Homo sapiens: one gene and its partners. The protein of the gene in region 2 purifies or fractionates together with the protein of the main gene of each other region. This does not show direct contact. Each region holds a gene or a part of one and is shown on either strand. Other genes may lie near its edges.

What was found.
Region 1: the proteins of SLC22A6 (region 2) and SLC25A24 purify together in Homo sapiens (affinity purification with mass spectrometry; 2 studies listed by BioGRID and IntAct, with this or other methods). This does not show direct contact.
Region 3: the proteins of SLC22A6 (region 2) and PDXDC1 purify together in Homo sapiens (affinity purification with mass spectrometry; 2 studies listed by BioGRID and IntAct, with this or other methods). This does not show direct contact.
Region 4: the proteins of SLC22A6 (region 2) and SLC20A2 purify together in Homo sapiens (affinity purification with mass spectrometry; 2 studies listed by BioGRID and IntAct, with this or other methods). This does not show direct contact.
Region 5: the proteins of SLC22A6 (region 2) and ERGIC2 purify together in Homo sapiens (affinity purification with mass spectrometry; 2 studies listed by BioGRID and IntAct, with this or other methods). This does not show direct contact.
Region 6: the proteins of SLC22A6 (region 2) and SLC26A2 purify together in Homo sapiens (affinity purification with mass spectrometry; 2 studies listed by BioGRID and IntAct, with this or other methods). This does not show direct contact.
Region 7: the proteins of SLC22A6 (region 2) and ITPRIP purify together in Homo sapiens (affinity purification with mass spectrometry; one large-scale study listed by BioGRID and IntAct). This does not show direct contact.

Annotation. Positions count from the first base shown.
Region 1 is NC_000001.11:108,137,512-108,141,658, reverse strand, and holds part of SLC25A24 (mitochondrial adenyl nucleotide antiporter SLC25A24), read left to right. Parts: intron 1-2,450; coding exon 2,451-2,601; intron 2,602-4,147. UniProt on the Homo sapiens protein: Electroneutral antiporter that mediates the transport of adenyl nucleotides through the inner mitochondrial membrane. Originally identified as an ATP-magnesium/inorganic phosphate antiporter, it also acts as a broad specificity adenyl nucleotide antiporter.
Region 2 is NC_000011.10:62,981,658-62,986,369, forward strand, and holds the start of SLC22A6 (solute carrier family 22 member 6), read right to left. Parts: upstream 3,311-4,712; 5' UTR 3,034-3,310; coding exon 2,665-3,033; intron 2,391-2,664; coding exon 2,287-2,390; intron 2,035-2,286; coding exon 1,880-2,034; intron 354-1,879; coding exon 185-353; intron 1-184. UniProt on the Homo sapiens protein: Secondary active transporter that functions as a Na(+)-independent organic anion (OA)/dicarboxylate antiporter where the uptake of one molecule of OA into the cell is coupled with an efflux of one molecule of intracellular dicarboxylate such as 2-oxoglutarate or glutarate.
Region 3 is NC_000016.10:15,035,919-15,038,969, reverse strand, and holds the end of PDXDC1 (pyridoxal-dependent decarboxylase domain-containing protein 1), read right to left. Parts: intron 3,020-3,051; coding exon of another isoform or gene 2,955-3,019; coding exon 2,695-2,954; 3' UTR 940-2,694; coding exon of another isoform or gene 760-939; 3' UTR 638-759; downstream 1-637. Other genes in the region: NTAN1 (protein N-terminal asparagine amidohydrolase), read left to right, coding at 283-396, 760-939.
Region 4 is NC_000008.11:42,415,446-42,418,721, reverse strand, and holds the end of SLC20A2 (sodium-dependent phosphate transporter 2), read left to right. Parts: intron 1-754; coding exon 755-919; 3' UTR 920-2,247; downstream 2,248-3,276. UniProt on the Homo sapiens protein: Sodium-phosphate symporter which preferentially transports the monovalent form of phosphate with a stoichiometry of two sodium ions per phosphate ion.
Region 5 is NC_000012.12:29,342,955-29,347,101, forward strand, and holds part of ERGIC2 (endoplasmic reticulum-Golgi intermediate compartment protein 2), read right to left. Parts: intron 2,587-4,147; coding exon 2,489-2,586; intron 329-2,488; coding exon 166-328; intron 1-165. UniProt on the Homo sapiens protein: Possible role in transport between endoplasmic reticulum and Golgi.
Region 6 is NC_000005.10:149,958,828-149,963,668, forward strand, and holds the start of SLC26A2 (sulfate transporter), read left to right. Parts: upstream 1-1,930; 5' UTR 1,931-2,152; intron 2,153-4,841. UniProt on the Homo sapiens protein: Sulfate transporter which mediates sulfate uptake into chondrocytes in order to maintain adequate sulfation of proteoglycans which is needed for cartilage development.
Region 7 is NC_000010.11:104,327,977-104,332,123, forward strand, and holds part of ITPRIP (inositol 1,4,5-trisphosphate receptor-interacting protein precursor), read right to left. Parts: intron 1,017-4,147; exon of another isoform or gene 889-1,016; intron 282-888; exon of another isoform or gene 280-281; coding exon of another isoform or gene 278-279; intron 1-277. UniProt on the Homo sapiens protein: Enhances Ca(2+)-mediated inhibition of inositol 1,4,5-triphosphate receptor (ITPR) Ca(2+) release.

The DNA of each region.
Region 1 (4,147 bases), on a different chromosome or scaffold from region 2:
GTATATATATCACATTTTCTTTATTCATCTGTTGATGGACATTTGGATTGTTTCTACATCTTGACTATTGTGAATAGTGCTGCAGTGAACATGGTTGTGCAAATATCTCTTCAAGATACTGTTTTCAGTTCTTTTTGACATATACTCAGAAGTGGAATTTCTGGGTCAAATGGTAATTCTATTTTTAAGTTTTTGAGGAACCTCCATGTCATTTTCCATAGTAACTAGACCTTTTTGTTTTTTAACATTTCTATCAATGTACACCAAGATTCCAATTTCTCCATGTCCTCCCCAACACCATTAAGTGGGGTGGTGGTCTACTACTATTGCTGTGTTGCTGTTTATTCCTCCCTTCAGTTCTGTAAGTGTTTGCTTCATATATTTAGGAGCTTAATATTAGGTCCATATGAAGTTATAATTTCTTCCTGGTAAAGTGACCCATTTATCATTATGTAATGTCCATCTTTGTCTCTTGTGACAGTTTGTGTCTTAAAGTCTATTTTGTCTGATGTAATTATGGCCACCCCTTTTCTCTTTGGGTTCCCGTTTTTATGGAATATCTTTTTCCATCCTTTCACTTTCAGCTTATGTGTGTCCTTAGATCTAAAGTGAGTCTCATAGATAAGGTATAGTTGATTCTGTATGTGTTATTCACTCAGCAATTTATATCTTTTAATTAGGGGATTTAATCCATTTACATTTAAAGCAGTTACTGATAGGGAAGGACTTACTGTTGTCATTTGGCTAGCTACCTTTTTATCTTTGTCCTGTGGCTTTTCTGTTTTTCCCTTCCTCTCTTCCTGGCTTCTTCTGTGTTTTGTTGATTTTTTTTTTTTTTTGTAGTGATATGTTCTGATTCCCTTCTCATTTCCCTTTGTGTGCATTCTATAGATGCTATTTTTGTGGTTACCATTGCAACTACATAAAGCATACTAAAGTTATAGCAACTTATTTTAAGCTGTTTACAACTTAACTTCAGTGGTATATAAAACTCTATTTCTTTACATATTTCACCTCCTCCCCACAAACTTTATGTCTTTTGATATTGTATATCCTTAACATAGATTTATAGTTACTTTTTATGCTTTTCTTCTTTAAATTCTGTTTAAATTTTGTTTTTGAAATTTAGATTTTCAAGTTATTTATATACCTTCATTACAATACTATAGGATTTTATAATATTCTAAATATTGACCTTTACCATAGAGTTTCATATTTTGTGGTTTTGTGTTGCTATTTATCATCCTTTTGTTTCTCCTTTTAGCCTTTCTTGTAGGGCCGGTCTAGTGGTGATAAGCTGTATCAGCTTTTGTTTGTCAGGGACAGTCTTAATTTCTCCTTTTTTGAAGGGCAGTTTTGCCCATACAGTATTTTTGTTTGGCAGTTTTTTTAAGTTTCAAAACATAGAATATAACATTCCATTTCCTTCTAACCTGCAAGATTTCCATTGAGAAATGCACTCAATGGATTTTTTAATCCATTGAGATAATTTTTTAATCCTGTAGGATTTAAAATTTTTAGTCTTACAGGATTAAAAAATTAAAAAGTTAAACTTGTTATATAACATATTAACATGTATTTTATACTTAAAGTATCTTATGTTTAAAAAGTTGATTATCATATATATTTTATACAGTTTCTCCTAATTATTGCCTTCTAATGAAATACAGGGACCTAGAGTAACAGGGATAAAGTATGGCCTTTTGATCAGCACGCCTGGTTCTGAGTCCTTCTTAAAAAAACTCTGGGCCTGGTGTGGTGGCTCATGCCTATAATCTCAGCACTTTGGGAGGCCGAGGCGGGCGGATCACCTGAGGTCAGGAGTTTGAGATCAGCCTTGCCAGCATGGTGAAACCCTGTCTCTACTAACAGTACAAAGATTAGCTGGGCGTGGTGGTGGGTGCCTGTAATCCAAGCTACTCAGGAGGCTGAGGCAGAAGAATCGTTTGAACCTGGGAGGCAGAGATTGGGCCACTGCACTACAGCCTGGGTGACAAGAGCGAGACTCCATCTCAAAAAAACAAACAAAAACTCCGCTGAGATGAATTTTTCTCATTTCTAAAATCAGAATAATAGATTTATGTAAGAGTTTCTGTAAGGCTCAAATGAAATATATGTAACGTGTAAAATGAGATACAATTAGTAGAATTATATTATTTTATTAATACTCACCATAAGAGGTGTTCTTTAGATCCTGCAGCGTTTGCTGCGCAGTTCACGTTTGTTTAGAAGAATGTCAGTAACCGGTGCAAACCTCATGTGTTCCGCACCCCCAGTGGCCTCCCACCTCTCCACAGAGTCACCGCCTCCTGCAGTGCCTGCTGCTTCTGCAAATGCGTGGCCTCATCCTGCAGAAACGGGGCTTCTCATGAGGTTGAGAATAGCTGTGAAAATGTTTACGTTGAAGTTGTAGAGTTCGTTAATTATTTTCTTCTTTATTTCTCTGGCAGCTCTTGAAGTCCTATTGGCTGGATAATTTTGCAAAAGATTCTGTAAACCCTGGAGTCATGGTGTTGCTGGGATGCGGTGCCTTATCCAGCACCTGTGGTCAGCTGGCCAGCTACCCATTGGCTTTGGTGAGAACTCGCATGCAGGCTCAAGGTGAATTTTTGATTACAGAACCACACCGATAAAAGTGCTGCACCAGTAATGTGCTTTTAGAACTCCAAGTTCTACTAAGATGCAGACTGTAGTTTTAAGACAGTATTTCTCAACCTTTTTTTCATTATTGCCTCCTTAAGGAATCTTTTCAGAAATTCTTTTTCTAAATGCTCCCTCGTCATGAAATTTTAATGCGACAGAAGCATTGCATATGTACTGTATGCATACATATGCCTTATAGATAAACAGAGTACTATTTTTTTTGACTGTGTTACATGCACGTTTTAAGATTATAAGCTTTAGTATCTGATGGATTTGGGTTCAGATCCTTGCCTCAGACTTCTTGGGGTTTTTAATGGGAATGAAAATTGTACAGTGTTGTAAGAATTACCAACAATATAAATAAAGCATCTTGGGTTTGTTAAATTTTTGGTAAATGGTGGTTGGAATCATTTTTTAGTGTTGCGTAGACCCTACAAGTTTTGAGCTGTGATTCCTCCTCACTGTGACAGTCTCCATTGTTGGCTTTGATTACACTGTACCATCCTGGTTGTTCTGCCAGCCCATTGATAACTTTTACCATTTGCTGGCTTTTATTGCTATCCCCACTCTATTAAAGTATGCATTCAAATGCCTTTCTTTTCTCTTTGATGCTTTCCCTGGTCAGTCTTATCCATTGTTTTCTTAAGTAGTACACCTTGGGCATCTACAGCTCTATTCCCAACCTCCCTTCCAAGTGCCAGCCACAGCAACCCCAGCCAAGCAGTCAGTAACTAATTGGCAAATACTCCCTGAGCCATTGTCCCATTCTAGACACTGCCAGATGCTAGGGGTAGAGCAGTCAACAAGTCAGGTGTGGCCCCGCCAGTGTAGAGTAGAGAAGACGTTATGTCCAGCAAGTAAACAACCTGGTTAAACCAACTCCTCTTTTGTTAGGGGAGCACAGAGCAAGGAGCTATAACCTAACTTGGGCGCTGCAGAATGCTGTCAGTGAAGCTGAGACTGGAAAGATGAGTGGGAGTTAGCTGGGCACAGGCCAGTGGAGTGGGAACAGAAAACATTCCAGTTGAGGGAAAGCATGTGTGAAGACACTGAGGCAGGCACCAACATGGTGTATTTAAGGAGCTGAGAGACAGTCATGGCTGTAGAGAAAAACACAAAGTAGTGAACTACACGTTTCTTGTGTATTCTCTCATTTCACCATCATAACCATCTTGGGGATGGGAATACTAACATTATCCCCATTTTTCAGATGAGCAACTGGGGCAGAGAGAATTTAAGTAACTCCCACAAGATTATACCTGTGGTAAATAGTGGGACTGAAATTCAGACACATGCAGTCTGATTCTAACCCTCCTGTCTGCCAGCTCTGATCCAGAACTTTGCATGACTGATACGGCTGATAGATTGTCTATGGCTGATAGACTGTCATTTCTGACCTAAAAGTCTGATCATTTTACATCTGTTCAGACATCTTTGCAGCCTTTCGGTGTCAGTTCCAAAGTTGTTAGTGGGAATTTCAAAGCCTTTAATAATCTAGCCCCAC
Region 2 (4,712 bases):
ATCCTGGGGCAAAGCCTTCTCCCCACAGCCTTGGTTTCCCTATCTGTCACACAGAGGCATTGGACTGGGTTTGACCTTCTCTACATTTGTGGGATGGGATGTGTGCTGAGCTCTGGGAGATGTCCTGTCCCTTGCAGCCTCTGGGCTCCTGTGGCAACCACCTCCAACCCTAGGCCCCACGCACCAGGAGTAGATGAAGAAGGCAAAAAAAGGCGCAGAGACCAGTAGCTGCAGGTGGCGCCAGTGGGGCACAGCGTAGGCCACACCAGCCAGGAGGAACTGGCCCAGGCTGTAGACATAGCCAATCAAGGTGCCCACGCAGGCCCGTGTGTGAATGGGCATCCACTCCACATCTGGAAAGAGGGTTAAGACAGGATGCTGCAACTACCTGGGCTGCTGGGCTAGTAAAGGCCCCTCCCTCCATCCAAACCTTGGCCTGTCCCAAGGCTCAGTGGAAAATGCATCGAGTAAGTTGAGTGCCAGGGTGATGGGAGTGGGGGAATTTCAGTGGAGGTATGGATGAGGAGCTGGGTTCAGAATATCTGGGAACTGCCCCCTCCACACTCTTGATTTTTTTTTTTTTTCTGCTCCTCCTCAACCTATTCTCCTGGCTAGAGTTCCTTCTCCATTGAGAGCACCTCTGGCCACTTGGTCTGTCTTCAGCAGCAACCATTCCTCTGGTCTTCCTCAGCTATGGGCTGGATTCCACTCTCAGTGGCCAGAGCATCTTGGAGGAGGCAGTGGCTTTTCTCCATCCTGGAGTCTTGAAGTAGGAGTGGGACCACCTCTCTGGTGTGGTCTGGAGAGGCCTACCTCCTGTCCAGGTGGGCTCCCCATTGGGCTGCTGGGACAGGGACTTGGATACTTAGGCTGGACTTGGGGGTTGGATTTCTTAGGTGTCTTGCCCAGGCTCTAGCCCAGTCCCGGTTAATTCCTCTAGTCCAGAGAATCCCAAATCCCTGGATTCCCTTCTGTGGTTGAGGAATGCCCTTGGGTAAATCCTTTCCCTTCTTCTTGGCCTTGGATTCCTCATTTGGGAAACATGGGGTAAGCGGGGGTTGATCCATCAGAGGATGCTCATCAATGGCCCATGGAGAGACCACACTCAGTCCACAAATGTGTCTTGTCTGCACGATGCTGCCTCATCCTATGTTTATTATTAGAGTTAATTGCAAACATGAAAAAAAACTGGGTTATTTTACATTAATCAAAGAGGAGGGGGAAGCTATGACAGCCCTAGGATCTCCTGCCTGGAGCAGCTGCATGCCTGTAGTGTCTCTGGATGAAGGTGTCTCTCCTTTGAATACAGTTCTCACCATTCCCTAATGCCTCCTGCACCTGGCCGTCTTACATGATCTGCTGGCTCTAACAATGGAGTTTGCAATCCTGCTTTTTTTTTTTTTTTGAGACAGAGTCTCGCTCTATTGCCCAGGCTGGAGTGCAGTGGCGCAATCTCCGCTCACTGAAAGCTCCGCCTCCCGGGTTCACGCCATTCTCCTGCCTCAGCCTCCCGAGTAGCTGGGACTACAGGCGCCTGCCATCACACCTGGCTAATTTTTTGTATTTTTAGTAGAGACGGGGTTTCACCATGTTAGCCAGGATGGTCTCGATCTCCTGACCTCGTGATCTGCCCGCCTCGGCCTCCGAAAGTGCTGGGATTACAGGTGTGAGCCACTGCGCCTGGCCCGCAATCCTGTTTTTAAATGAGGGGTCAGGGCGGCATGAGCCTGAGAAAAGGTTGTTCTATTGGCAGGAAGGTGAGACCCGAGAGAGGCTGGAGGGCAGGCAGGGCTCAGGAGGGGCAGGCTGGGAGGGGAGGCTGGAAAGGGGTTGCTGGGCTGGGTGGCCGGAGGGGAGTGGGCTGGTAAGAATCTCTCACTCAGTGTCATGCAGTTGAGGGAGATGCCAGCCAGAGCCATGCCCGAGAGGAGCCGGAAGGCGCAGTAGATGGGGAAGTTGGGTGCGAAGGCTGCGCAGGTCCCTGACACAGCTGTCTGCAGGTAGTTCAAGATGAGTACCTTCCGGCGGCCTAGCCTGTGGGAGGAGGGGAGACTTGTAGCAGGGCCCTGGAGACTGATGGGGGTCAGGCTGAGCCAGGAGAGGAGGGCTCACCCTGGATGATGCCTGGGCTGGGGCCTTTTGAGGACCTCTGAAGTATGAGGCTGGTGCTGTAGATCCTCAAACCAGCGCCGGCTGGCAATGCCAAGCTCCCACCTAGACACCCTGAGCCCAGCTGAGCCCCTAATCCCAGCCCAGCCCAGCCCCTTGACCCTACCCAGGACTGACCTGTCTGCAAGGTAGCCGAACACCATGGCTCCGAGCAGCACCCCCACCATGTACAAGGACTGGGCCAGCTGGCGTAGGGCCCTGTGAGAGCACACAAGGTCCCACTGTGGGGAGAGGAGCAAGGGTCAGGCAGAGATGAGCCTGGCTTCAGAGAATCCCCTTCCCCCACTTCAGCTGGTCCTCTGGGGTCCATGTCACCCTCTTCCTCCGGCACTTTGCCCTTTGCCTCTCTGGTCCTGACAGCTGAGAGCATTTTTCTTTTTAACTCAGCAGTTAAAAAACTCAGCAGTTAATTTCTCCATGTACTTTTTTTTTTTTTTTAACAAAGGCCCCCATCTTCCCATCTTGGCCCCTGGATGGGGAGCCCCAGGTGCTCACCTCAGTCACGATGGTAGATGGGAAGGTGCTGTTGTCATAGATCCAGCCATCGGTGCAGGGCTCTGTGGCCCCTGTGCCATTGGCTTCTGTGCCATTGAGAAAGGGCAGTCCCCACTGCGGGGAGGTGAAGCGGAGGCAGGACTCAGGCTGCCCCTGCCTGTCCCGGGGCAGCCAGACCTCCAGCCCCCCGTTCTTGCTGAGGTTGGCATCGGCAGGCGGGCGGCAGTGGTGGGTAGGGATGGCAGCAGTGAAGTTCTGCAGGGTGTTGTGAGAAGCCATCAGGAGCAGGGGGAGGACCACCAGGGTGACCTGGATCTGCTGGAAGCGGCCGACACCCCCCACCTGCTGCAGGAGGTCATTAAAGGCCATTGGGCCAGGCCCAGCCCAGTGGCTGGGGGCTGAGGCCTTCCAGTCCCAGGACCTCTGTCTGTCTGCCTGCCTGCTGTCCTTCGCTGGAGGAGCAGCACTGCCGTTGCCTCCGCAGCTGGGTTGCTCCGGGAGCTGAGTCCGAGCTGCTCTGTGGGGGGACAGCAGCCTCCTTGGCTGCTCCTCCTTCTTCCCCGGTCTCCCTGATCTGTCCCTCCCTTTTCCCTTGCAGCTTCTCCTCACTTTGGGGGTCAGGGCAGCTCAGCTTTCAGGGTCTGCTGGAGACCTGACCCTTGCATGGGCAGTTTTTAATCCTTGGCCTGGAGGGAATGAGTTAAAGTGTGACTTGGTATCAGAAGGATTAACCCTCCAAGGATTCCTTGTGTCAGTGGAATTTCTCCAAGTGGTTATAAAGGGCAGGAGAGGGTGGACTGAATAGGAGCAGGGAGAGGGGTGTATTAGGGGGGCATCTGGGGGCAGGGGGGGCCAGAGTGGGATCTATTGGACCTATTTGTCTTCCTTTTAGGAAGGAGACTGGGCTCTGGGAAGTGTGGTGGCCTCTTGAGGAGTTTCTGCCCTTTTTAGTGGATGAGATCCAAATAGTCTGCTTTTGGGAAGGGTTGCCAGGGAAATTACAGGGTGCCCAGTCAAATTTGCATTTTAGGTCAATGAAGAGTTTTTAAAAGTATGAGTATGTCTCTAATATTGCATGAGACATACTTATACTAAGCAATTCTTCATTGATTTGAAATGCAAATTTGACTGGGCACCCTGTATCTTTATTTGCTAAATGTGACAACCCCAGTCTTTGTTCTTCTGGGGACAGCTCACATCTTATAGAACCATGGTTTTATTCATTTGGAAGAAACAACAGAAGTCAGAGGCCGCTCTTGGAGTGGGACCTAAGACCAACGTCATACACAATGTCGGGTGATTCTTCCAGTGATTCTTCTGACCCTTCCAAGGGTCAGATTTTTCCCTTAGTCATATTGTCTTCTGTCCATAGTGTCTTTTTTCTTTTCTTTTCTTCTTGTTTTCTTCTCTTCTCCCCTCCCCTCCCCTCCTTTGTCACCTCCCCTTCGCTCCCCTCCCCTCTCCTCCCCTCTTCTCTTCTCTTCTCCTCTCTTCTCTTTCTTTTTGAGACACAGTCTCACTCTGTTGCCCAGGCTGGAGTGCAATGGTGCAATCTCAGCTCACTGCAACCTCTGCCTCCCAGGTTCAAGTGATTATCATGCCTCAACCTCCCGAGTAGCTGGGATTATGGGCATGTGCTACCACGCCTGGCTAATTTTTGTTATTTTTAGTAGAGATGGGGTGTCACCATGTTGGCCAGGCTGGTCTCGAACTCCTGACTTCAGGTGATCTGCCCATCTCAGCCTCCCAAAGTGCTGGGATTATAGGCGTGAGACACCATGCCTGGCCTCTTTAATTTATTTTTGAGATAGGGTCTCACTCTGTCATCCAGCCTGGAGTGTAGTGGCACAATCTTGGCACACTGCAGCCTTGACCTCTCCAGGCTCAGATTATCTTCCCAGTTCAGCCTCCTGAGTAGCTAGAACTACATGTGTGCACCAGCACACATGTATTTATTTATTTTTAAGAGATGTGGTTTTGCTATGTTGCCCAGGCTGGTCTTGAACTCCTGGGCTCAAGCAATCCACCTGCCTCAGCCTTCCAAATGG
Region 3 (3,051 bases), on a different chromosome or scaffold from region 2:
GCCTTGTTTCTCTGAGCCTCAAGTTTTCACCCCAAATGGGAAAAAACACCCTCGTCCTGTGGGACTGCTGTTGGCGCTCAGCAGTCGTGCGTGCCCCACAGTGTGCAGAAGCAGACACACTGGACGTGTTCAGTAGCTGGCAGCTTTTGTTATTTGAGACAGGTTTTAAGAAGCTTAGGCAGATAAATGCATGAAAGGACTACACTGGAGCTTGCGTTACTGGGAGGGTTTGAAAAGTGGGTGACATTCCTGAAATTCTATCCTTGACACGTTCTTTTTTAGATGATTAGCATTTATGATGCAGAGACAGAACAACTTCGTATAGGACCGTACTCCTGGACACCATTTCCACATGTGGATTTCTGGTTGCACCAAGATGACAAGCAAATACTAGAGGTGAGAGTTTACAGGCTGGGTAAGTCTTAAATCTCTGCACCCTGGTTTCCCCATCTGTAAGAAAAAAAGGGTTTAGACCAGGTCATAGCTGCTTTCCCTTTGGCGGGTAGTAACTTTTTGGATGCCATTGACAGACCCCATTTAACTTGTATATCAAATGGGGATATGTCAAGTCCTAGATGGAAATGTGTGTGGGTAAAGCAGTAAGCAATCAACTTTTTTCTTACTAATTCAGGCCACCTCATTTCTTAACGTATTTTATTATATATATTTGTGTCCAAGAACAAAGATACTTTGACATCTTTATCACAGCAGGGGACAGTAAGGTTGGCTTCTCTAATGCCCACCATCTTGTGTTTTCAGAATCTTTCCACTTCGCCTCTGGCTGAGCCACCCCACTTTGTTGAACATATTAGATCTACCTTGATGTTTTTAAAAAAACACCCATCTCCAGCTCACACACTGTTTTCTGGAAATAAAGCCCTACTCTACAAAAAAAATGAAGATGGCTTGTGGGAAAAGATCTCTTCTCCAGGAAGTTAAAAAACATGAATTACCAAAGAAAGCACCTTCTTGGCCTGACAGACCATTGGTGGGGCTGGCACGAATCCAGATCTGGATCCTACATCTGTTGGGTCTTAGGCCTCCTTCCCTCCTCAGTGTCTTTCAAATGACTTTCATCAAATGACTTTCAAAATAAAACCTTATTTTGGCAAAGGCATTTGTTGAGACTTATTTTTTGGTTTACTAAAAAATTGATGTCCAGTTTTTTTTTTGGTCGGTAATAACGGGCAGAGGAGAACCTACCTCTCACTGGTCTATCGGCAGCTATTTCAGGTACGTGGGTAAGTCTTTTGTAATAAGATTTATAAACTGAATTCACTGGTAACAATTTCAAGAACCTTTATTGAAACCAACATTCAAATAATATCTCAAGGGTGAAATGTTTCAGCAAAACCAATTTAACAATTCCAAATATATATAAAAACATGTAATTTTCTTGAAGGTGATAATTTACCCCTCCCCCATTTTATCTGCTATACTTCATTGCACCAAATAGGGAAGACTGTTTAATCATCTGCACCAAAAAAAACCCCCTGCATTTTGACAAGTGTAAATGTCAAAAATCCCATCAAATCAGAGTATAATTATAGGCTTAATATACTATAACTAAGGCTTCCAATACTACAGTCCAGAAACCCAGTGTGAATTTTCCCATTTTCAGGTCTCCCAAAAGCTTGACTGCTGGATTAAGAAGGCACAGGGGCCATTACTTACGACAAAGTGACGCAGTACTTCGGAAAAGTAGGAACGGGCAGTGCCAGCGAGCTTCTACTGACTTAAGCAGGGTGCCCGGCTGGATCAGCGTGAGAGAGTGCTCTGCTGGCTCCTGTTTCTGAGTTGGGCCCAGGCGAGCTGCCAGGGCAGTAGAAGCTTCAGTGGGAGACAGGTCAAAGGGGTACTTGTTTTCAGATTTTAACCAGGTGGGTGCTACGTAGCACACGGAAGAGCAAGCTCTTAAGGGTAGCATCTATCAGGTTTTCAGATACTAAACAGAAATGAGCACAGTCTGTACTTGTGTGCCAATTTTAAAAGCTTTGCCAGTATTTAAAAATATATGGTCAGGAGGAGACTTTACAGTTTCTCTTTACAAACGGTATATAATGGGAGAAATGGCCTTGTGGCAGAGGACAGTCCCAGACAGCAGCCTTGCCACAGCTCAAGTAGACACAGTCCTTACTAAGTCTCCACGAAGAGCAGTAGCTGGGGAGGGCTTCTGATGCTCTTATTTACAATCCCACAATCACTGCTCTCCTTCAAGTCTAGCAGTCCCACTGTATATTGCAACTTGATCGTACTAAAGACCGACAGCAAAGGATACAGCCAGTCTCGCCTCTGTGAAGTGTTGCAGAGAACCTGGAGAGTGCTAATGAAAAGCTGTTTTACCAAAAAGTTGCCACGGGCAACCTCATATACTTAGGCTTATGTTTAGAAAGAGCAAGGGTGCTACTGGTAGACACTTGAAATTCGAAGTGTTTTTTGTGAATAAAATGTGTTTATGGTAACTTAGGGAAAAGTCGTAGTAGGACAGCAAACGTGGTTCTACATGTACATGAAGTTAGACAAGCTGACTCCCCTCCTAGAAAGCCTACCTTTCAGGCACATATTTGTGCCAAAATCCCAGTGAAGCACAAACAACAGTAATTTATATTAGTATGTGGCACAGTTCACATTTCCAATAGAACTTCATCTTCCCTGAAACAATACTCAGTACAGTCTCAAACCACACAATGAGTCTCATCTTAAGCTCTCCGGTCCTTCTACCTGTGAGTGGTCATCTTCTGGGTGTGGGACCCCTTTCTGGAAGGCCTCGGTCTGGTCGGTGTGCTGAGGGCTGGGAGCCCCTGGGTGTCCCTCAGTGCTGCTGGCCTCGAGGGTGATCTGCTCCGGCCCACTGGATAGGCGCTCCACCTTTTCTAAGTCTTCAATGTGACTGACTGAGCTGGTCTCACTCAAAGCATCTGAACCTCGCAGGGACCTTTTAAAAGGCTTCTGGCCTACAGAAAGGGCAGACAGACTGCGCTGAAACTCAGTGAGGATACTTCTGCAACACAGGCTGTCTCTGCAACAGATAATTGCTTTATTTCACAACAC
Region 4 (3,276 bases), on a different chromosome or scaffold from region 2:
CGGCCGGGAATATTATTTTTAAAGCCAAAATCCAACCTGGGCACAGTGGCTCACGCCTGTAATCCCAGCACTTTGGGAGGCTGAGGCGGGCCGATCACTTGAGGCCAGGAGTTTGAGACCAGCCTGACCAACATGGCGAAACCCCATCTCTACTAAAAAATATGAAAATTAGCTGGATGTGGTGGTGCTTGCCTGTAATCCCACCTACTCAGGAGGCTGAGACAGGAGAATCGCTTGAACCTGGGAGACATAGCTTGCAGTGAGCTGAGATTGCACCACTGTACTCCAGCACTTTGGGAGGCCAAGGAGGGAGGGTCACTTGAGGTGAGGAGTTCCACATCAGCGTGGCCAACATGGTGAAACCCCGTCTCTACTAAAAATATGAAAATTAGCCAAGGGTGATGGCATGCGCCTGTAATCTCAGCTGCTCAGGAGGCTGAGGCAGGAGAATTGCTTGAACCTGGGAGATGGAGGTTGCAGTAAGCTGAGATCACACCACTGCACTCCAGCCTGGGTGAAGAGTGAGACTGTCTCAAAACAACTATATAAAACAACTATATAAAGAGCTATATGCTGAAGAGAAGAATCCCCAAACAATTCTACCTAAAATCTAAGCTATTTTAAAAGCTTTAACAAATGTAGGGGACTGGGTAATGTTGTACTAGAGCTTGTTTCTGAGATTAGCCCATGTACATTGGTAGAGTGTAGCCTTTGTGGCTCACCTGTTTTTACTTTGCAATGTCTGCTCCCACAGGTGGGCTCGGTGGTGGCCGTGGGCTGGATCCGCTCCCGCAAGGCTGTGGACTGGCGCCTCTTTCGGAACATCTTCGTGGCCTGGTTCGTGACCGTCCCTGTGGCTGGGCTGTTCAGCGCTGCTGTCATGGCTCTTCTCATGTATGGGATCCTTCCATATGTGTGATTTGTCTTCTTCCAGCTGCAAACAGCTAAAGGGATGGTCTGGTGTTGGCGTGTGGGAGACATGTGTGCTCGTGCCGCACATACACATCCTGGCCGTGCACGGCTCTCTCATGACCAGCTCTCTGCCTCCCTTCCAGGAGGCTCCATCCCACACTGTTCACCCAGGCTGCGGAGACTCACCTTCCCGAGCTAACTTAACTACTGTACATAATAATATGTATTAAACTGGTATCGTGGTGATATAATGTGGTGCAGTTACTTATATATTAAATATCTATTGTATCCATAGAATAGGCAGCATTATTTCAAACATATTCAAGTTGGGAGTGGAGATCATTGCCTAGAAGTCAATATTCAATAAATCTTGTACATAACTATTTCGATGGCAAATGTTAAGCCTTCTAAAAGGAAAGTGTAGATTGGAAAATGATTTTTTTTCCAAATGATGTTTTTGCCTTCTAATATACTGTAAGGTAATGAGCTTCAGAACAGGCAACCTGACCCTGCAGAGGTCGCGTGCTGTGGGATGACAGCGGGACGGGAGCTCACAAGTGCTTTCACTGAAGATTTGTTCATATACTGTGTATTGATTGTTGTGTAATATATCATCATTGCTTTTGTAAATACGTAAAACTGTAATTTTTTAATGGTGTGCTTCCCTTATACTTTTTTGATCAGAGAATTTTGGAAAGTACCAAAGAAGCAGGGGAATCATTGGCCAGTGTTACGTTTTCACATTGTCTGTCTCCCACCCTCACTGATCACGCCTGCCCCAGAGCAGTGTGTGGCGGTGACACCGTCACCCAGCATGCGCCACGCCGTGGCTCCCACCAGCAGTGCCACCGCCACCACACCCCAGATCCCACCCACCTTGCAGTGGCCTTTCCTTGTCATCAGAGTAGAGAATGCACAGGTGTTGGTGAGGGCGTGTGGCTGAGCACTACATGTCAAGTCCAGAGTCAGTTTCTATCCCAATTCTCCCTGCAGCCTGAAGAACGGATCCTTGTCTCCAATGTCAGCACAAAGGAGGCTTTTTCTGTGCTTTGACATTCTAGCACTTCAGGGATGAGAGGGAGGGAGAATCCTGGATGCTGGATGGAGTATTTCTCTGAGGCCCACACAAAGCTGGACACCCCCAGGCTCTACTCCATCCCATTGGAGTCTCTTCTTTTTTTGATAGCGGGAGGGAGGAAGTACGACTAATGTTGGAGCCTGAAACTATGGAAATGCTGCTAAAATTTTTATATTGACAAACATTTTCTTGGTACTTCATTGTCATTTTTCATTAATCAACCATATTAAATTTATAATAAAAAATGCCCCTCAGAAGTTTGCCTCTGAAGCCTTTTTCTCAATATTGACAATTTTTCTTTCAGAGTGAGTTTCCACAAAAACCAAAGCTATATAATTTGGCCCTTGTATTTTTCACATACCTTTTTTTGGTTTCCCTTATTTGACTACTGTTACGGGCTTGTACAGAAAACACAGGTGAGCAGGAAAGGGAGGCACGGCGTCCCCGCCCCGCATTCAGAAACCCGCAGTCAGCAGCTCATGGAGCAGTCGGTTGCCATGTTCAGGGCTGAGGACCCAGCAGGGAAGTGCAGGTCTTATCCTTTGCTCAAGCAGCCAAAAACACCCTGGCTTGCATATTCTGGAGCCCCCAGAGGGAAACCCCTTAATCCTCTGTAGCGGTGGTGGCACAAGCTCCGACTCCCTTAGGAGCTGTGAAGGTGACAGATGAGGCAAAGTGGCAGGTGTGAAAAATGCATCTTGTGGCCGGGCACGGTGGCTCACGCCTGTAATCCCAACACTTTGTGAGGCTGAGGTGGGCGGATCATGAGGTCAGAAGATGGAAACCTTCCTGGCCAACATAGTGAAACCCCATCTCTACTAAAATACAAAAAAATTAGCCTGGCGTGGTGGCATGCGCCTGTAGTCCCAGCTACTTGGGAGGCTGAGGCAGGGGAATTGCTTGAACCCGGGAGGCGGAGGTTGCAGTGAGCCAAGATCACGCCACTGCACGCTAGCCTGCCGACAGAGAAAGACTCCATCTCAAAAAAAAAAAAAAAAAAAATGCATCTCCACTAAGAGCCCTGCCCTTTCTGGTGTTTAAAATGGCACCTTCAGCCCTTCATTTCCGCACTTCAAGTAACAGCACAACACAATGCAGGTGAACCTTGTGCAGCCTAAGCAGTCTGCGGGATTCAGGCAGAGACGCTAGCCACCCCTGTCCAGGGAGGAGGGCTGCCACCTGGGAGCCCCGGCCCGGCCCAGCAGGCAGGACAGCAGAGGCAGCATCTTGGGGTGAGAGGGAAACAGGCCACACTCACCACATTGAGCATTCTCGTGACTGAGCAC
Region 5 (4,147 bases), on a different chromosome or scaffold from region 2:
ATGTTTACTGGTTAGTCAATATAATTTTGGAGTTTTGTAATTAAAGCAAAAGCTATTTAAACACCGAAACATGAAAATCTGTATACTTCTTGCCCCTTTGAGAAGAAGCAACTTAAGTATAAGCAACACTTTCAGAAATTAGACAAAAAGGAAATGGTTGTTAACCTGTTGTTGAAAAGATTCCTCCAACAATACCACAGAGTCTTACAAAAAACTGCCAGAATGGCATGTGCTCCTCAGTAACTGTCACCATAAGAGAACTGAGATCATATTTCATAAATATCCCAGAGACTCCATGGCTGCCTGCAGCATGGTTAATGATACGTTCCTAAAAGGGAGGCAAAAGGAAGGGGAGAAATAGGAGGAAGAGAGAAACAGAATTCATGTCATCTGGTTACTTACATACATTCAATATTAAGCCCTGAAGCCCTACTGTAAAAGAAGGACATCCACATTTCCTTATGAACTGTCCTACTAGACTAAGCTCTTCAGAGACAAATTATTTTGTATTCTTTGTGTGGTTAGCTTTTGAAACTATCAAAAGAGCAGAATCATTCTTTTTTTCTCAAAAAGGTCACCTTAGATACAAGTTTTCTACTGAGCTCAAGAGCTTACAAATATGTATGGCATGTTCCTCATGCTATAACTAAACTGCAAGCTTTAGGAATACAAATAATGAGGTTAACTACTACCAAGGGAAATTAAAACAGTTTTACGTAGGGCATTACAAAACTCTTTCCCTATTACTAGCACAATACAGCCTTATAAGCCAACTGATCAAGTTTCCAATAAAGTGACTACATCTTAAAGCTCTAAAATGCTCAATATCATGCTGAGTTATAAATATATTGTCACTACCTATAAGGGTAGAAACTGTTTTAGGGATCAGGGCATATACATAATGAAAGACTAATAATGATTCACTTTGGGTTCCAGGACTAATGAATGTCAGCCCTCTCCCTCCCACCCCCTATCCTGCATTTTACCAACCCCAGTTACTCCATTCTTTTTTAAGTTAAAAAACTATTTTAGTCACCCTATCAGTATAAACACATCCTTCAACAGTCAAATGCCCTGGGATTCTATTACATATGTATTTTTGGCTTTGTTATTTTAAAAATATACCCTGGAGATATTTTCCTATCAGTATATAGAAATCCTTCTCATTTGATTTTTAACAATTGCATCTTCCTCCAGTGTGTGTAGATGTACCATCTGGGTTGTTTCTAATCTTCTACTATTACAGATAACAATGCAACGAATAGCCTGAAACACACATTTTTATATTTTTGCCCACCGTATCTTTGGAATAGCTTTCTCGAAGTGCAATTGCTGAGTCAAAGGATAAATGCATAGGTCCTTTTGCAGATACTGCTAAACTACCTTCCTCAAAGATTATGCCACTTTGCATCCCCATAGCACTGCATGTTTGCCTATTTTCCCCAAAGTCTTCTCAACTGTATGTATTGCCTTGAGGTGTTTGCCAATCTTACAGGTGAGAAATGGAATCTCCCTACTCCTTAAAGAAATGTTGAAAAGCACAATATGTTCTGGTATAAACTTTACCTAGTTTCTTTGTGTGAGTGTATATACACACATACCTATACATATATATGCAGTTATATGAACTTGTACTTTCTCCCAAGCCAAGTGAAAAGCTATAGACACATGACACTTCACCCCTAAAAACTCCAATACCTAATCTCATAAGAACAAAAAAAAAAATTCCACAATTATTGAGGGCATGGTCATCATGAGTTATAAGGCTAGTAAAAGAAAACACTATATAAAGGAAAGCAAAATTTTTAAAGCACTTAAATTTTGCCTTAGAATTCTTCTGGATACAAGTGTTTGAATTCACCATTCAAACACAAAAATAAGAAAACATGACCCCAAAGTAGATAAGAAATCTATTAAACTGTCCAATTCCAAAACTTTGCTCATCACTGTCAGTATTTACTTATATGGCCATACCACCCTGAGGTAGTGGAATGTTCTTCATCACAATCAGATGAATACAAAGCATTAATTTAGGAAGGCAAACCCTCTAAATTTGCTATCTAATCCATGATAACCATGTATGCCCAGAGAAGGTAGTACATTTATTAATAAATAAGTAACAGAATTCAAAGAATCTGCTGCCAGATCAAGAACTGCTTATATCAATTTATGAGAAAACATTTATAAAATTAAGACATTAAGAATAAAATAATTAAGGCCATCACAATTTAACAATTTTAAGTCTTAATGCAATAGAAAACCTTTCAGATTTTTTAAATATCTACTTTTATTGCTTTAGAATATACTAATATTCATTTCTGACATATTTCTGATTTAAAATAAAATGTTAATTCATTTCAAAACTTCCACAGATTTTTAAATGAGGGAAGACACCAAGTAAAACACCACCTTATTTTGTAGCCAGGAAACTTTAAAATGCTTTTTTAAAAAAATCACCAAATTATTTTACCGGTTGGATTCAACTTACCCTTTCTGTCACAGAAAACTGATGGGTGTCTGCTGATATTTTATATGTATGTAGTTTTGTTGGCACAACTGTAATAAAATATTGGAACATCTGGTTGTCTAGAATACAAAAAAAACTTTTTATCAATTCAGTAGCAACAAAACTACTGCCAAATATATTCTTCTATTAAACACATTTAACCTGAAATTTAGCTGGATGTGGTGGCTCACACCTGTAATCTCAGCACTTTGGGAGGCTGACGAAGGAGGACTGCTTGAGTGTGGGAGTTCAAGAACAGTCTCGAACTTGAGTCTGGGAGTTCGCGACCAGTCTGGTCAAGAGAGCCAGACCCTGTCTCTACAAAAAATTTAAAAATTAACTGGGCATGGTGGTATGCACCTGTGGGTCCCAGCTGTTCAGGAGGCTGAGGCAGGAGGATCATATGAGCCCAGGAAGTCAAGGCTGCAGTGAGCCATGATTGTGCTACTGCACTCCAGCCTGGGCAACAGAGCAAGAACCTGTCTCAAACAAATAAAAAATAAAAACATTTAATCTGAAATGTAATGTTACATACAACTTAATGTCTAACAAAAAAAATTTTTAAAAGAACCAATGAAAGCAACATATTTATACTCGGTAAAACAAGTTCTCAGCAAGCATAAGATGGGCAACACAGATGTTTAAAAAAATGAATTGGTGACTTAGTTAAATATTCCTTAAAATCGTTAACATCCTTTTATCAATTATGGAAAAGTAGCATTTTTCTTTTTCCTTTTTTTTTTTTTGAGATAGGGTCTCACTCCATCGCCCAGGCTGGAGTGCAGTGGCGCAATCACGGCTCACTGCAGCCTTGACTTCCTGGGCTCCAGCAATCCTCCCGCCTCAGCCTCCTGCGTAGCTGGGACTACAATGCACGCCACCAAGCCCAACTAAATTTTTTTCATTTTTAGTAGAGACAGGGTTTTGCCATGTCGCCCAGGCTGGTCTCAAACTCCTGGGCTCAAGTGATCCTCCTGCCTCAGTCTCCCAAAGCGCTGGGATTATAGGTGTGAGCCACTGCACCCAGCCAGCATTTCTTTATAGTACAGAAACTAAGAATAAAATAAAATTATAAGAGAATAACCACCACAAGACATATTTTCAGTTTCTACTAATATCTTAAGATATACACTAAACCAAAATCAAATTAGCTAGCCTTTGAATAAATACAAGGAACTGATATTACAGTAGGAAGAAAACTAAAGAAACTACTCAATGATGGCCTGGGGTTACTGTATAATCAAAAGGATCATTTTTATACAGTCATTAGGCATCTCTAAGTTTGACACAAGTTTTAAATACCAGAATATTACCAATTACTAATTAACTGTAAACAATTACCCATTCACATAATATAAAACATGTTAATTCTCCGGGTCTAGAGAATTCTCTAGAAAAAGTATAATTAGATACACCTATCCATAGATTCAACTAGAGAAGCAAGTAAATGTTTTTATTATCCTTTTGTTAGAGATGAAGCAACTCAAGTACAGGGATGTTAAGAAACAGGCCAAAGTCCAAGTTATTAAGTGGCAGAGTGAGAACTTGAACCCAGGCGGTTCCACTCAAGGGGAATATGGTCTTAAATTTAAGCAGAAAAAATTCTCCCAGATTTAAATAGAAGCTTGCACCCCTTTGTAC
Region 6 (4,841 bases), on a different chromosome or scaffold from region 2:
AGTAGCTGGGACTACAGGCACATGCTACCATGCCTGGCTACTTTTTTCTATTTTTGGTAGAGTTGGAGTTTCACCATGTTGTCCAGGCTGGTCTCTAACTCCTGAGCTCAAGTGGCTTATAGGCATGAACCACCATGCCCGGCCAAATTTGGCCAATCTTTATTGGTGCCTGTTATATGCAAGGTCCTGGCTTCCCCACACAGACAAGAAAACAAACAAATAAATGAATAAATGTCAGCTGCAAGGATTGGAGTGGATTCTTGCATTTGCATAGCACAGTGAGTGTAGTGGTTAAGAGTGGGCTTTGCAGTCAGACGTGACTGTGTTAAAATCATGCTACTGTCACTTATTAACTGTGGGACGTTGGGCAGATCACCTAACATCTCTGAGCCTCATTTCCTCACCAAAAAAAAGAAGAATCATAATATGGCACCTCCTCTAAAGCTGTTGTGAGGATTAACTCATGTAATGAATGTGAAGAGTTCTGCGCAGGCACGTGATAAACATCCAGAAACTGTTTATTCTGCTTGTTGTGCAGTCTTTAGGGCTTAAACAAAGTACTTTACACTGATTGCCTTACCTGACCCTCTCCAGGACTCTGGGTGCTAGGGCATTAACTACCCTTTGAAAGGTGAAAACATTGATGCCCATTGAGGTGAAATGATTTGTCTTCAGCCACAAGGGGCAGCATCAGGAGTAGAACCCAAGTGTTTGTGTTCTGATTCCCAAGACAGCTTATGACGTTTTGGAAACTCTGAATCTGATGGGTGACAGAAACTTGGGGATCATCTCTAGATAAGAAAGGGAGTTCCTTGAATGACTGTGAAGACGTTCACCGGAAAGGGAAGGAAAGGAAGTTAATCATGCTTCCTTCACAGGCCCTCCTTCACCCCCATCTAGTGGGCACATGCAAGCTACAAACAAGGTGAGGAATGAACAAATTAATACATACTCAATAGTGGCCAGTTCGAGGCAGATAATTAAATCAAGATGACCTGAAAGGATGTGACTGGCTGTGGCTAGTTTACACAGGGTGGTCAGGGACGGCCTCGCCATGGAGAGGGCTGGTGTTTTGGCTGAGACCTGAGAGACCAGAAGAAATCTGATGGCCAGAACCAATGTTTAGGTCCCTAAAGAGAACAAGCGTGGCGAGCAAAGGGGGCCAGTATGGGTGGAGATCAGCGAGGGAGGGGGGCAGAGATGAGTGCCCGAAGCACACAGTACCTTGGCATAGGGAGGGTTTGATTTTACCTACAAATGCCATTAAACCCACTAAGGATTTTAACAAAAACTACAATTACATTTTAATTTACATTTTATGTTTTATAGAGACAAGGTTCGGCTATACTGCCCAGGTTGATCTCGAACCCCTGGGTTCAAGCGATCCTCCCTACTCGGTCCCCCAAAGTGCTGGGATTACAAGCGTGAGCCGCTGCGCCCGGCCTTTTAATTTACATTTTAGCCTTCCGGTTACTGGAATCTTTGATGGGGAATGAGTTATAGTGAGGCAAGAGCCTCTAACATTCTAGGAGCTCTTTTCCCGTTCGGGGCCTCAATTTCCCGTTCTACAAAGGCGGGTGGGAGGGAACGGGGTCCCAAGTAGTACTGGATAAAGAGGTGGCCGATCGCAAACGCTGAGCACTTCAAAACTCTGGGCAGAGCGCTTCCGCGCCTCTCCTGCTATTTCACCCTGGCCACAGGCTAGCCGCCGAGGCCGGTCATCCGCTCTCTCCGCGGAGGAGTCAACGCCACGGAAGCAGCGGCGGAACCTCTCTAAGAATCCTTCCAGCTTGTGCTCTTCTGTCCAGGGCAGCCAATCGCGAGGAGGAGAGTAGTCAGAGGGCGGCACCCTCCCCGGTCTGGGCCGAGTTATTGGCTGGTGGTAGCGTCGCTCGCCCGGCAGTACCACGTGACGGCCTCGGCCGCGGGCGTTTACACTGGCTCTGCCTCCGGCATCTCTTCGCCGGTGCGTCCTCGCCGCGCCCGTAGGTCCCGGCAGCCGGGCCCCGCCTCCTTCGGAGTCCGAGCGATGGGCGGGGAAAGGGACAGGCAGGTATAGCTCTGTCGGCGCCGCGGTGTCCACCTCAGTCAGGCCACGGTGGAAGACGCGTGCCGCGGCGCCTGGTTGCCTGCAGCGGCCCGGACCCGAGAGGTGAGAAGAGGGAAGCGGACCAGGGAAGAGGGAGGGAGCGGTGCTGGCCGCCAAGCGGTCAGCGGGCCCCTCCCAGAGTCATTCTGCCTGGGTCCCCGCGCGGTAGAATCCCAGATCAGGGGTCGCCGCCGTGGAGCGGGGCGTGCGTCAGGTTATTTCCCGGGTGGTCCGGGGCCGGGCGAGTGGCACTGCACCCTGGTGATCCGGGCCTGCCCGTCTGGCTGGCGGCTGCCCACCCGCCCTCCATCCCGCGTATCTCGCCGTATCTCGCCGGGTGCCACGCACTCCGCTGCTTTTCCAGTCCTCGTTGATCCGTCTCGAACCTAGATATCTGGAATAGGGATCGAGGAGATAGGAGCCACCACCACCTCGGACAGATGGGGAAACTGAGGCCGGCACAGGCGAGACGGCTTGGTTATCTTGGTTATTAAAAATCACACACCCGATTAAGTACAAAATCAGGACCTGTTCTTTCGGACTCACACACTAAGTTGGTATTATTTCACTGGATGGATGGAAACACTGAGAAGACAGAGAGGGCCCAGAGCCTTGCCTAAAAATACACAGCAAGTCTTTTGCAGAGCTAGGACTTGTACCCAGCTCTCCAAACTCATAGACTATCAGCCTGGGCTCCTTCCTTGCACAGATTGGGGATCACAGTGAGTTAGAAACATTCAGAACTTAAATTGCCTTCCGGCGCCCATTCTAGTTAACCTGTCTTTTCTCCTTGTCCCCAACAGTTCTTTATGTGAAATCTACAACTAATGTGATATGCAATACTAGATTAAGCAGAACTTTTTGTTTTTGAAAATTGAATCAATAAGAAATGGAGGGCCAAAGCTGTGGGAAAGGAATGGACCCTTTAAAATCAGGAATCTCAAGGCAGGATATAGCAAGGGACAGAGACTAATAGCTGTCGTTTATTGAGTAAATGCTATGTGCCAGGCACTGTGGTAGGTAGTTGTGTTAGCCTTACAAACCAGCAAGTTAGGTAATGTTACCCCATTTTACAGGTCAGAAATTGATGCTGAGTACAGTGAAGTTTTACAAAACCATTGCCATATGACTGCTGAGCAGTATAGCTGGGATCTGAACAGAGATCTGTTTGACTTCCAGAACACATCCAGTGATTCTCCAAGTGTGGTCCTAAGCTCACTCGTTCAGCATCATCTAGCGTGTGGAGTCCTGGATCTCATCCTTGGATTTGCAGGGATGGTCCTAAGAAGCTAACGGCTCTCTGTATTTGACAATTATTGTACTGTAATGTGCTGCCTCCTAGGGGAAGATCTAGAGGTGAACATACTCTGGGCTAGGGGTAATTTTTGAGGGAAAAAAATCACTTTTTTTTAATTTCTGATTTGACTTTTTTTTTTTTTGAGACCAGGTCTTACTCTGTCATCCGGGCTAGGAGTGCAGGGGCGCGATCTAGGCTCACTGCAGCATTGACCTCGTGGGTTCAAGCAAACCTTCCACCTCAGCTTCCTGAGTAGCTGGAACCACAGGTGCACGCTGCCATACCTGGCTAGTTTTTGTAGTTTTTGTAGAGATGGTGTTTCACCATGTTGCCCAGTCAGGTTTCAAACTCCTGAGCTCAAGCAATCCTCCTGCCTTGGCCTTCCAAAGTGCTGGGATTACAGGCATGAGCCACTGTGCCCTGCCCACACTTTTATTTTTTATTTTCCCCCATGATTGACAGAAGGATAATCACGCTTTTAGTGAATGTAAACCCCCAGGCAGATGCTTGCCAAGCTTAATTTCTTGACATAAGCTTGGTTTTGGCATGTGGGGGCGGAAGAGTGGGGTTGGAGAGTTAAGTGAGAATGGGGAAAGTAACTCCTTTTTCCTTATCATATAGCTGTTAAATTCTAATTCACTCAACAGATACTTGCTAAGCATTTATTAGGTGCAAGACATGTTCAAGACACTGAGAATACAGCTTTGAACAAAACAGAGCAAGTCAGTGCCCTCATGTGAAAGACAATTAACAATGTGTGGTATGGAATGGTGAGAAGAGCTATGGAGAAAAATAAAGGGCATAGGAGTGCAAGGCAGGGCTGGGCCCAGGAGGAAGACATGGAAATGGCAGCAATGGCAGTGGTGCTATATTTATTTATTTATTTATTTATTTATTTATTTATTTATTTTTTGAGATGGAGTTTCACTCTTGTTGCCCAGGCTGGAGTGCGGTGGCGCCATCTTGGCTCACTGCAATCTCTGCCTCCTGGGTTCAAGTGATTCTCCTTTGTCAGCCTCCCAAGTAGCTGGGATTACAGGCACATGCCACCACGCCTGGCTAATTTTTTTTTTTTTCTTTTTTTGAGACAGAGTCTCACTTTGTCTCCAGGCCGGAGTGCAGTGGCGTGATCTTGGCTCACTGCAACCTCTGCCTCCCAGGTTCAGGTGATTCTCCTGCCTCAGCCTCCTGAGTAGCTGGGACCACAGGCATGTGCCACCACGTCCGGCTAATCTTTTTATTTTTAGTAGAGACGGGGTTTCACCATGTTGGCCAGGATGGTCTCAATTTCATGACCTCGTGATCCGCCTGCCTCCGCCTCCCAAAGTACTGGGATTACAAGCGTGAGCCACCGCGCCTGGCCTAATTTTTTGTATTTTTTAGTAGAGAGGGGGTTTCACCATGTTGGCCAGGCTGGTCTCGAACTCCTGGCCTCAGGTGATCCACCTGCCTTGG
Region 7 (4,147 bases), on a different chromosome or scaffold from region 2:
CTGTTTGTCTTTGCATTCCCCAGAGCAACTGGCATAGACCTGCGCTCCGTGCTAAGGACACACACTATCCTGGGGGCCCACAGCTCACACCATGCACTGGAGGCACCACTTTCACAAGACAGTTCCCCACAAATGCCCACCACTTGCAGGAAGGATGCCTCTCCCACAGCCAGCCTGCAGGGGAAGGTCTCCCTCAGCCTCCAGGATTCCCATCTCCGGTTTCTATGCGTGAATCACAGTGACAGCAATGCGCCCTCACCACTTCCCGTTGTCCTACATTGGCTTGGTCTGGGCTCGTATTCCTCCGAATTTCCCCTAGCCCTGTGGCCGCATCTCACCCACAAGGGTGCTGGTTTGGAGAGAGCATGAATACCCACCTTGGGGCAGGACATGCCAGAGTTCCCAAGAGTCGTCCCCTTTCTCTCTCTCCACCCCATGATCTACACACCCCCTGCCTCCAAGCAGAGCCACAAACGTTCAGGCAAAACCACACTTTCTCAGTGGGACAGGGAGGGGAGGCTGCACGCTTAGACGCAGGCTCTGCACAATAGCAGACACACTGACTCAATGGAAAGGGGAAGGGACTGGAACAGAACCGGGAGTAAACACAAAGGAAAACAAGGAGGGAACAAAGCCCTCCCTTGGCCACTCCCCGCCCCCTTCCACTTTCCCCCTTTCACTGAGAAACTAGGATGGATGGAATTAAATAAAGGGCCAGCACCCAGCAGCCACCTTCTGTTTGACCCCTGGATGGGAACAAAGAGAGCCCAGCTTAGAAAGACACTCTGCCTCTAGGAGATGGGGGAGGATGAACCCCCCAAGGCCTTGTCCACGACCTCGGAAAGGCTTGTTCCCCACCTCAGCCTCCCCACCCCACTGGTCTCTTACCCACGTCCTGGCTTCCTGAGATTCTAGGCCCCACACAGTGAAAGAAATCCCAGACTGTTCTTCTACCCGAGTCCCCCTGCGGCTTAGGCGGTACCTGACACAAAGCCTGGGCCCCAGCTGGGCTGGGGAGAGCGGGGAGGGGAGAGGAAGAGAAGCGCTGTGGGCCTCCTGCACGCATGCACACACACACACACACACACACATACACACATGCACGCACACACACACTCTCCCTGCAAAGATCTAAAAACCCCTTTCATCTCAATAAAGGGGAACAGTAACAGACACAAAGACAAAGGGGAGGCCAGCCCAGCTGTAAAAAAAATTAAGAGCGTCTTTGCTTGTGCTCTGCTGCAAGGATCTGGGCTGAACAATAGAGCCGGGCCTCTGCCAGCCCTCCCACACCAGTTAGTCAGAGCAAACCAGTCCTCCTCCTCTCTGGAGAGCAGAGGGCCCACATGGTAAGGCTAGGAACAGTTAGCAAAATTGCTCCCAGAAGTACCTATGACTACTCAGAGTCACACTCTCTACGGATTGCACAAAACAACCCTACTATGACATCATTTTCTAGTCACAGGGACGGAGCAATAAGGTGTGATGCGGGTGCTCCACCGAGGCTGTGCTGGCACCCAGTAGGTGTCCAAATAATGCCTGCTGAATGCATGGACCCATGACTCATATGTGCGTCAGTCAGACTGAGGTGGGCAGCAAGCAGCCACTGATAGTGTCAAGTTCACACAGGCTCATTTCCACTCCTACTGTCACCGAGAAAGAAACAGCCCAAAGCTCATCAGCTAAGAAGAGCTTAACAGTTTGCAGAGGCTTAGAGAACCATTGCTAAGGAGTCAAACTCTGGAATCAGAAGGCCTGGGTTTGAATCTTGGCTCTACAACTTGCTATGGCAATAGTGTCCAATTTATGGCCTTGTGGACCATCTCACAGTCACTCGGCAGTGCTTGGTAAATGATACTGCTGTTGGCACTGGTACTGGTGCTGCGGTCATGTCTCCTTTTTGATTTGTTAAATCGTCATGGTTGCATGTTAAGGAGTCCTCTGGGAAGAAGTGGGTGAACAACATCCCTGCAGCTCCTCCAGAAGCCTGGGGAGTATGACTAAGTTGTCTCCTCCACCTCCTTGTCTTCTTCTAAAGGCCCCAGGGGCTGACACAGAGGAAGAGGAGGAAGTTTGGAGACCTAGGAAGGTCAGCAGCACCCTCCCTTACTCCCTCCAATCTGGCATCATTGACACTGACAGCTCTTCCATTAGGTTCTGAGTACCCAGCTTTGGAAGAGGGTAGTTGCTATAATGAATGCTTGCTGAATACATGAATGGAGTTAGGATTGGGAAAAGAACCTCACTGCCTTTACTCCCAGGAGCAGGAATTTGAAATTCCTGGAGTGAAGTGGAAAGCTCTGGATAAAGTAACTTCTACATTCTTTCTTCCTGGGAGGGGCACTGCAGTCAGAAAAACAAAGTGCTAACAGTGTAAGTGCCTTGGAAAATCCCTTCCAGCAAAATCCCTTCCAGACGTAGCCCTGGAGACAGAGACGGTTGCAGCCCCGTTTGGTCTGGACTGGCCTTCATGTAACTGCAGGCAGACTCACTGCCAACGTTTAGAAAATGGCCCAGGAATGAACCCTGACACGTTTTCTGACCCTCAGCTGCCTTGCCGTGGACACCTCCCTTCTTGCTCAAGCTTCTTGTAGAAATAAACAGAGGATTACAGAGTAAGAGAAGGAGCAGAGAAGTAATTCTTCTTTCAGGAAAAAACTGGACAAGCCTCAGGGCCCTGACACACCATGGGAGGGTTTAATGAATTACAACCACTGCATCCCATTTATTGAGGCTTAAGCATTGCACAATAAAGCTTTACATGTATCATTCTCACATCAAACCTCTGAGGCAGGCACTTATCTCCATTTTACAGATAAGGCAACTGAGGCACAGAGGTGAGGCCACTCACCAACATCATAGAGCCAGGATCTGAATCCAAACCTATCTGACTTTCAAGCCTATACTCTTCCCATGAAGCCACGAGCTGTGCTGCTCAGTGACCTGGTATCTGTGAAACATTAGACATGTACCTATGGACTTTCCTCACCCGGACTGTTTAGGGAAGGGTAGGTGACAATCTAGATGAAATGTGGGCATGAAGCAGGGAGTAAAACCTAATGAACTTATGAGACTCCTTCTACCAAGATTCTGTGAGTGTGGCCTGGGCTATTTGAGATAAAAGGAATGGAAAGCCTTCTCTGCAAAAAAGGGAGTGAGGGCTCTCTTGACACTGGCAGGTAGGCATGTGTTGGGGTGAAATGTCAGGAAGCGGCATGGGTACATTAGGGACATTTTGGGGCAGCACACAGGGGTAGGACCCAGGCAGCCCCTGCTCTCCTACCCTCCAGCCCAGGCATGCTGCACCCCTGCCTCCTTGGGAACTTTGGAACAAAGTCTCAGCAAACAAAGGACGCGTTCGTAAACTTCAGGCGGGTCCCCCGGCTGCTGCTAAGAGGCTATTGAAGCCGGCTCCCATGAGAACAGTATGTTATGAGCACATGGTTTTGCACTAGCGGGCAGGGCCAAAATAATGACAACACCTTCCCTGCTGCTTTGATACAGGAGGAGGGGGCGAGAGTTGGGGGGACTCCTGCATCAGCTTCAGGGAAATGACCTAGAAGGGAGAGAAAGCAGTAGCAGCCCAGGGTTGCTTCCAAGCTGAGCCCCTCTTCCCAGGCAGTGAGTGTCCCACTGTGTTATGCACCTGGAAGTGAGTCATTTGATAATTGCGGGGCTTTGTATTTTTCCTAGGGACTTCCAGCAGAGGACTGCAAAGTGCTCTGAATATTATCAGGAACTGGTTGTTACTGTGCCTATTAAACAGAAAAGCAAACAGTGCTGGAAGGGAAAGCCTTTCCTTCCTTTCACCCTCAGATAGCTCAGGCCACACTCACAGAATCTCTTGGCAGAAGGAGTCTCCAAAGCTCACTAGGTCTGCTAATATCAGAGTGAGACAGCAGGAAGGGACCAGAAGTCTCAGGCCTGGAGTTGGTGGTCTGCTTGCTGTTTTCTCAGTATTGACACTTAAAACTTTGTGGGATTCTTTATGCCATCTGTATGTGTTCTGGGCTACAGTGTCCAGACAGACGCCTGAGGTGGCAGAAAGAGTCCAAGGCCCTGGGAGAGAGCAAATCTAAATTCGAATCTCTTCTCTGTTGTTGTCCGTTTGGGGCAAGTCCCTCTGAGTCTGTTCTTTCACCTGTAA